Regions from separate parts of the Homo sapiens genome. Here region 1 is reported to be linked to region 2. Evidence: microRNA targets listed by miRTarBase, many of them from high-throughput screens and not tested one by one. Region 2 holds a microRNA gene; the other region holds the end of a gene's coding sequence.
The links. The annotated mature microRNA hsa-miR-4501 reads UAUGUGACCUCGGAUGAAUCA and lies in region 2 at 3,048-3,068, opposite strand. An mRNA with a match to its seed (bases 2 to 7 or 8) in the 3' UTR can be bound and repressed. Matches are read on the target gene's strand: a 7mer-m8 pairs with bases 2 to 8, a 7mer-A1 pairs with bases 2 to 7 and ends in A, and an 8mer does both.

Region 1 (4,264 bases), not on the chromosome of region 2:
CACCCCTACACCCTGCTCTGTGAGCACTAGGAAGTGAGCAAGAACCCTCCTCTTTGCTGCACAGCCAAGGCAGTGTGGAGAGCAAAGCACCCGCTCCCTTCCTGTGTGCGCCTGGCAAGGTACCTAACTTCTCTGAGCCTTAGCTGCTTCTCTGTGAGCTGAGCATCACAATGCCAGGCTCAGGCCTCTGCTGTGAGGATAAAATGAGATAACACACAGCAGGACCAAGCTGGGTGCCCAGCATGCAGTAGGTCCTCAATCAATGTTTTTTAAAGACAGAACCAGTGAGTAATGAACACTGGCCTTGCCCTAAAAACTGTTTCCTACATCACCTCCCCACACCCAGGTACTTCAAACACAGTGATGGCAGCTTCTCCAACAAGCAGTGGATCTTCTTCTGGTTTGGCCTGGCTGATATCCGGGACTCCTATGAGTTGGTCAACCACGCCAAGGGACTGCCAGACTCCTTTCACAAGCCAGCTTCTGACCCAGGCAGCTGACCCTCACCATGGACACTACAGGCCCTGGAATGGCCAGGGTGGACCAAAAGCCATGCCAGCTGGGCATGACCCCAGGCAGCCAGCCACAGGCTGAAGGGGGCTTGTTGGCTGAGTGATCTGCAGAGGAGAAAGCAGCCCCAGCTCTGCCCAGAGGAGGCGCTGAAGTGGGACAAGCACAGGAAAGAAGGGGACCAGTCTAGGACCCCAACTCGACTCACTCTAAAGCTACAACCAAATGGCCTTCGATTTTCAACCTGGGGATTAGGGGAGGGGAGGGTGCCTTCCAGGGCTCTACTCAGGACTAACCCTAAGGGTGAGCTAGTTTCTGTGCCTCTGTGCTATGTTTTGAGGCTCCCTTACCCAAAATAATACCCCTGCCTGCGTGATATTCTACCATTCATTTTAATTCCTTTGGGTCTTGCAGTTTTTCAGGAGGCCTTGATTAAAATGCAAATACTTGTCTGAGAGTCAGCTTACACTTGAAAGAAAATTAGAAGTGACCCCGTGGGAGCAAGATTTTTTTTTTTTTTTTAAAGACAGGATCTTGCTCTGTTACCAAGGCTAGAGTACAGTGGTGCAATCACAGCTCACTGCAGCCTTGACCTCCCAGGCTCAAGCAATCCTCCCATGTCAGCCTCCTAAATAAGCTGGTACCACAGGCATGCACCGCCACACCTGGATCTTTTTTTTTTGGTAGAGACGAGGTCTCACTATGTTGCCAAGGCTGCTCTCAAACTCCTGGGCTCAAGCAATCCTCCCTGCTTGGCCTCCCAAAATGCTAGGATTACAGGCTGGGAGCAAGATCTTGAGGGCTGGGGAATCAGGGGACTCCTGGAGGGAGTAGAAGACTTCTATGATGAATGCTGCCACCATCTCCCTCCCAGAGATTAGGAAGCATCCTCCCTTCCACAGACCAGGCCACAGCAGCCCCAGCTCCCCTTGCCTGTGAGTGCCTCCACCCACAGCTCCCTTTCTAGGCTGGGCTCACAGCCAGACCCAGGCATCAGTGGCGGACCGTTTACCTGCAAGAGCCCAGAGAAGTTAAAAGATGGCTTTGGCTTAAAAGCTCAAACTTGGACGTTTTCCCCTAGGCCCTACTAGTGGTTGTGTCCAGTCTCTACAGGACTCGATGGGCAGAAATCCAAAGCCCAGGGGTTTCATTTGACATTTTTTGAAGCTCCATAATGTAGCAGGCACCATACCGGCTGCTGCTGGGGTGACTTTCTGGCAGACACATAGACAAGAAGGGAGAAGGTCGCCGGATGCGATGACTCACGCCTGTAATCCCAGCACTTTAGGAGGCCGAGGCGGGTGGATCACGAGGTGAGGAGATCGAGACCATCTTGGCTAACACAGTGAAACCCCATCTCTACTAAAAATACAAAAAATTAGCTGGGCGTGGTGGCGGGCGCCTGTAGTCCCAGCTACTCAGGAGGCTGAGGCAGGAGAATGGCGTGAACCTGGGAGGCGGAGCTTGCAGTGAGCCAAGACCGCACCACTGCACTCCAGCCTGGGCGACAGAGCGAGACTCCGTCTCAAAAAAAAAAAAAATTAGCCAGGCATGGTGGCGGGCACCTGTAATCCCAGCTACTCAGGAGGCTGAGGCAGGAGAATCACTTGAACCCGGGAGGCAGAGGTTGCAGTGAGCCGAGATCACACCACAGCACTCCAGCCTGGGTGACAGTGAGACTCTGTCTCAAAAAAAACAAAAAACAAACAAACAAACAAAACCGTAGTCCCAGCTACTCGGGAGGCTGAGGCAGGAGAATGGCATGAACCCGGGAAGCGGAGCTTGCAGTGAGCAGAGATCACGCCACAGCACTCCAGCCTAGGTGACAGAGCAAGACTCCGTCTCAAAAAAAAAGGGAGAAGGTCAACAGGGAGACCATCATGGCACAGTAGGGGCTGGAATAGAGCAGCCTCTGTCTCCCCTCAGGAGATGGGTCACAGTGAGTACATATCTGGACTTCACCATTAGACAGACCTGACCTGGAATCCAGCTCTGTGGGCTGGATTTGCTCTGTGGCTTGACCGAAACTGCTTATCCTCTCTGAGCCTCCATTTCCTTCATGTATAAAGTGTAAAATATTCCACTTCACAGTGGACACTTCACAGTTCTCTCCCTCTAGCTGCTCTCACCAAAGATGTCTTCATAAGAACCAGCTCCAAATGGGGAGAAAAAGACAACCTACAACAAGAGGGACTGAGGTGAGGGATTGAAAGCATATAGTACAATGAGGATTTTGAGATTCTTGAAAAAGAGAGCCACTGGGCACAGTGGCTTATGCCTGTAGTCCCAGCACTTTGGGAGGCTGAGGCTGAGGCTGGAGAATCACTTGAGCCAAGGAGTCTGAAACCAGCCTGGACAACAAAGTGAGACCTTGTCTCTAAAAAATAAAGAAGTGAAAAATTAAAAAAAAAAAGAAAGAGAGAGAGCCAAAGAACTGTGGGAAATCTTGGAACAGGGGAAAGATCACGGGAGGCCCAAGGTGGGGCTTGACCAGATCTAGTGTTTCAAGAAACCCAAGATCAATCCCAGCCAATGGCAGAGTTCCCTGTTGGGGAGAACAGAAAAGCAAAACCAAATGTCTATATAAAATGTTTATTTTTGGAGGACTGTGTGGTCTGGTGTTTGGGAGGGAACTCCACCCCCACCAGGCCAACCATGGAGCTAGAAACAGAGACAGCAGGAAGGGCAAAGCTGGCCACTGCCTGCTCCACCCCTTCACAGCCCAGAGCAGAACAGGGTCTGCTCTACTCTCAAGGTGAGTGACAGAGAGCCGGTACTGTTTCTGCCCCTGGCATACCCTGAGAACCCATGTGACTTCTGTAGTGCTCAGCCCCTGTGCCCTTCCTGGGCCTGATCCACATGTGTCAACACACGCACTCCCTCTCACAGTCTCCAAACAGCACTGCAGAGCCTAGCTGCATCTGCCAGGTTCAAAGAGGAATTTTTCACATTTGCTCACTTCCAATCTCCATCTTCCTTCCTCTGTCTCCCACTCTCCCACTCTCAGTAGCCGCATCCCAGCCCTGCCATACTCCCTTCTCAGGGACAGGAGACTCAGTGGGCAGCTGGCCTCAGCTCTCCTAACAGGAAAAAAACCTGTACAGCATTAGTGCCAGGGCTCCTGCCCTCCCAAGCGCTGAGCCCAGAAATTTGGACAAATGAGCTGCCTCTTAACTGCAAAAAACAATTTTAAAAAAGCAAAAGATCAAACAAACAGACCAAAAAGCATAAATAAACAGCAGCTGGGCCAGCAAGGAGGAAGGCAGGGTGACCCTCAGTGGCTCCCTGTGCCCATCTCAGCCTCTTGCCATAAAACTCAGCCATCAGTGGCCAGGATGACAGCAGTTCCGAAGATGCCCACACTCTCTCCAAGGAGCTTCATCTGGTTCCAGAACTCAACACGCCGCGTGTTGTGCCAGTAAGCAACATTGCCATCAATGAGCAGCATGACAGGGGGCAGCAGTACAGCCAGGATCTGGGCAGCGAGGGTCACGTAGTAGCCTGACAGAAAGGCCAGGGCCAGGATGCCATACAGCACGAAGAACAGCTGGATCATCAGCTCCCCTCCTGGGAGATGGTTCAGATACGCCAGCCGGTCCTCCTTGCTGTGCTGCAGTGAGTAGGCCTGGAGACATAACATCCTCTAAGACTCTCCAACAGGCTCAGAAGCCTGTCTGGGGTAAACCACCCCTGAGATGGCACCTGCAAATGAGTCCCTGCAGATGGGCTTCTGACTCCCCTCTTGGACTGGGGA
Region 2 (4,264 bases):
CATTTGTATTCCCCAAACTGGTGAAACCTACGAGATGTAGGCATTACACTTAAAATAAATAACTCCAATGAAGCCAGAAATTAGGTTCATTTTAATTTCATAGATAGAAAATCGAAAGACTGTGGATTTCCTCAAACTAAAAAAGGGTAATACCCCAAATTAGAACTCAAAGCCTGTAGCATCCACAGCTATGCTAAGACGCTAGCTGCAATGTTGTCTCAGAGGATGAACACACAGCAAGTACATTAAATCAAATTGTGAAAGCATAGTGATCAGCGTCAATTTAGATTCTATGAATGAGCCCCTATATTTTATCATGCCTTTCTGTCAGGGTTTATTATTTGTTAAGGGGTTTAAATCTACAATAGAAAAATATTTCTGTAAAATCCAGTAACACACAGTGGCTAACCATAGCTGAATTTTATAAACTACAATTTGTCAAATAATTCATGCTTTTTCCCAAACACAAGAGCCTGCATTATTCTGACAACAAAAAAAGAGTTTTCCTACTCCCTATAATTTTCTATCGAACCTACAGACTATCTGCTTTACCTGAATTCTTAGAGGGTTAGGAATTTAAGCTTAAAAACCACTTTGTGTTAGGAAATGTAAAGTCTTACAGCTAAAGGGCTGAAAATATAATTTCTCTGGACTTCAAATAACACCACATATACACCAGCTCAGGTTGAGCAAAGAACACTGTACTCTTTAGACATGTCTAGGGAATGAACTTATACAGGGAAGAAAGTAGCTGTCGATCAAACTAACAATTATTGTGCAGCAAGCTCTGTTCTAAATCTTCTAAATTTACATTAGTAAATCTACCAAAATTACATATAGTAGCTCAGTTAACTCCCCCAAAAATGAGACTGTTAGTGTTTTCACGAGGGCTAAGTTCTTTGTCTAAGATCATGTAGTGGAATAGTAACTTGGTATTTAAAACAGATATATCTAACTTCAATCCAATGTTCATTTTATAATATCACGCTGCTTCTATAGGTAACCTTTCGGTATTTAACCACTGTTTCTATCAGGAAATTTTTATTCTATTCTAATCTGAGCCTCATTCATTGTCACTTAAGCCTGTTTAATTAAAAGCTGTTCTTGTAAAGTTTCGAAACAGCTGGTCACTGTCCTTGGTTTAACAGCTCATGCACATACAGTACTCAAAGATAATTAAATCCCCCATCAGCAATTTCTTCTTTTGGCTGAATAAGCCCTTTTCAATGTTTCTTTGAAAAAAATTTCTGTGCCTTTAAATATCTTGCAACATCACCATAGCACGTTGAGTTTTACAGCTGTAATATGGGCACGTGATTTTCTTATAGTCATTTATAACTACAAGGACCATTCCTACCCATCCCCATCGTGTTCTTCCACCATATTCTATTTACTGCTTAAGCAGCTTGGTTCTCCCATTGAGCATTTTTGTCCTCATCGAGCTTCATTATGTTTGCTGTGATGGTTTTCTCCACTTTGCCAAGAAGCTGCTTCTATTTCTAAGGAGCACTGCAGAGCACTTGCATTCCTGGTTAAATCTTTTGCCTGTTCTATTTCAGTCTATGTTCTTACTTGATAAGCACCTGGAATGGGCTGAATTGCCACCCCCAAATTCATATATTGAAGTCCTATCTCCTTGTACCTGACATTATTTGAAGATTGGGTCTTTAAAGAGGTAACTAGATTAAATGAGGTCATTGGGGTGGGCCCTAATCCAATGACTGGTGTCCTTTTGAGAAGAGGAGGTTAGGACACAGACACACACACAGAAGGTAAGACTATATAAAGACACCATGAGAAGATGGACATTTACAAGCCAAGGAGAGAGACCACAAAAGAAACCAACCCTGCTGACACCCTGATTTCAGACCTCCAGTCTCCAGAACTCTGAGAAAATAAGATTTTATTTATTAAACCACCCAGTCCGTGATACTTTTTTTGTTTGTTTTTTGAGACGGAGTCTCGCTCTGTCGCCCAGGCTGGAGTGCAGTGGTGCGGTCTAAGCTCACTGCACCTCCGACTCCCTGTCAAGCGATTCTTCTGCCTCAGCCTCCTGAGTAGCTGGGACTACAGGTATGTGCCACCATGCCCGGCTAATTTTTTTTGTATTTTTAGTAGAGATGGGGTTTCATCATGTAAGCCAGGACAGTCTTGATCTCCTGAACTGGTGATCTGCCCACCACATCTGTGATACTTTCTATGGCAGCCTTATCAAACTAATATAGCACCCTCAAATGTGTCTCATATCCCTAACTATTATTAATTATGTAAAGAACCCCACAGATACCAACATCATGTACCCCTCATATTGAAAAGGGTACATTACTTCTATGGTATTGTTGCCAAAAATGCCTAAACTCAATCTGTCCATGAGTAGGCATCAGATAATCCCAAATTGTGAGGTATTCTAGAACACAACTGATCAGTACTCTCAAAGTGTCAAGGTCAAGAAAGCAAGACAAGTCCAAGAATTGCCACAGATTGTAGGAGTCAAAGGAAACATAAAAACTAAATGCAATGTGGGATCCTGGATTCGATCCTGGAACAGACAAAGGATCTTTATGGAGCTCTGGTGAAATAATAGCATTGTACCAATGTAGATTTCTCAGTTCTAATAAAGGTCCTATAATTATGCAAGATGTTAAATATTAGGGAAAGCTGAATAAAGGATATACAAAAACTCTCAGTTCTATCTTTGTAATGTTTTTGTAATGCTAAATTTATTTCAAAATTAAAATAATATATCATAATATAAATAATGTATTATAAAAGTAATATGTACTATGACTAATAATATAAAAATCAAATAACAAAATAAATGAACTAATAAAACACCACCAGTGGAGAAAAATCACATATTTTCATCATTGTGAAGTCTTCCCTGAAATAAACTCTATATTAAAAAAGGAGGGGAGAAAGAAGCTAACCTTCATTGAGATCTACTGATACTGAGTATTTGACAGGTACTATCTTATTTAATCCTCACAATAGCACTATCACTTATAAAATGTGACATCTGATGAAACAGAAGCTCAGACATATTTCAGTGATTCATCCGAGGTCACATAACAAGTGATAGACTGGAATTCAGACCCAGCTCCATTTAATTCCAATGCACCATGTTTGTTCTCCTGGTTAAGTATGAATTTCTATGTCCCCACCAACTATACTTTCACCTAAGTATATCCGTTCTAACTATGGATTTCATTCTTAGCCAAATATTGGAATCACCTGGGAAGCTTTAAAAATTCCTGAGGCTCAAATCCTACCCCCAATTCTGCTGTAATTATTTCAAGATTTGATTGGACCTCAGAATTTTTACATTATCCCCAGATATTTCATATGTGTAGAGAACAACTCTACTAGTTTATCAATGTTAATGTTATACAGAACAGAACTAAAACCCTTGCAAAAGATAGGCAGTCATATTTATCATTTATTCAGGAGTAAGCATGTATCACCAAAATCAATTAAGTTCAACTTGTGCAACATACTATTTAAGGAAACAAGCAAAAGAAATTCTTTAAAAGACACATGGAGAACAGGGACCAACTTCAGAAGAGCTCTCATCAGCTAACTGCATAGAGCACCAGGAACACAGAAGCAGTTGACTCCAGAGATAAATCTCAAAACCCTTTCAATAAAGAGAAGAAAGTAGCAATCATTTTACTAAAAAAAGTCAAATGACTTACTGTCTCGGATTTTAATTTCCTCTAGTCCCTTTAAAATGGCAAAGGGAAACCATCAAGCTATGTAAGACTCTAATTGAAAATAAACATTTTCCTACTTTTGAGTGGAATTAAAGCTGGGAAAAACTGAATTGCTTCAAGGTGAGGAATGAAACAGAAAGAAACATCAAGAAAGCTGCAATGAGAGTATTTGGAAACCATTCTGTTTGCTGAATTGTCAGCCATGCAAGCACTTATAGACAATTACAACCTTAGAAAACAAATAAAAAGTGTGTAAGTAGGCACTTTGATGCTTCCTCCTAATTATAGGCTTTACGAGCTGGATTCAAAAAACACAAATAGAGGCAGTGCGAACAATATAACCCTGAAATGAGGTTATGAAGCTTATTAGCTTTACATAATTACACAGCTGTGACAGGTTGACGAGACCCCTGCCTGAAGCAGGGGTCTTACAGCAAGGTGGCCATTTTTTTTTTAATTTTACCCTTTTTAAAAATACAATTTAGGTTGAATCATGGACTAACCAATATTTGACCTACACAAGTGGCTATTTCCTATTTTGTGTTTCCATATGA

Region 1: the mRNA of TMEM101 is a reported target of hsa-miR-4501. Seed matches in the 3' UTR shown: 7mer-m8 at 3,319-3,325.

What each region holds. Positions count from the first base shown.
Region 1 is chr17:44,008,102-44,012,365 of GRCh38, forward strand. TMEM101 (transmembrane protein 101) reads right to left here. Exons shown (of 4, transcript NM_032376.4): 4 at 3,087-4,135. The coding sequence ends at 3,827. It overlaps NAGS (N-acetylglutamate synthase), which reads left to right. Exons shown (of 7, transcript NM_153006.3): 7 at 347-967. The coding sequence ends at 500. Among named protein-coding and RNA genes, the nearest start is that of TMEM101, 4.7 kb to the right of the region's middle. RefSeq lists a silencer at 3,160-3,454.
Region 2 is chr13:96,426,033-96,430,296 of GRCh38, reverse strand. It overlaps MIR4501 (microRNA 4501), which reads right to left and starts at 3,068; the gene lies at 3,005-3,068. The region is part of intron 1 of HS6ST3 (heparan sulfate 6-O-sulfotransferase 3); the gene reads right to left.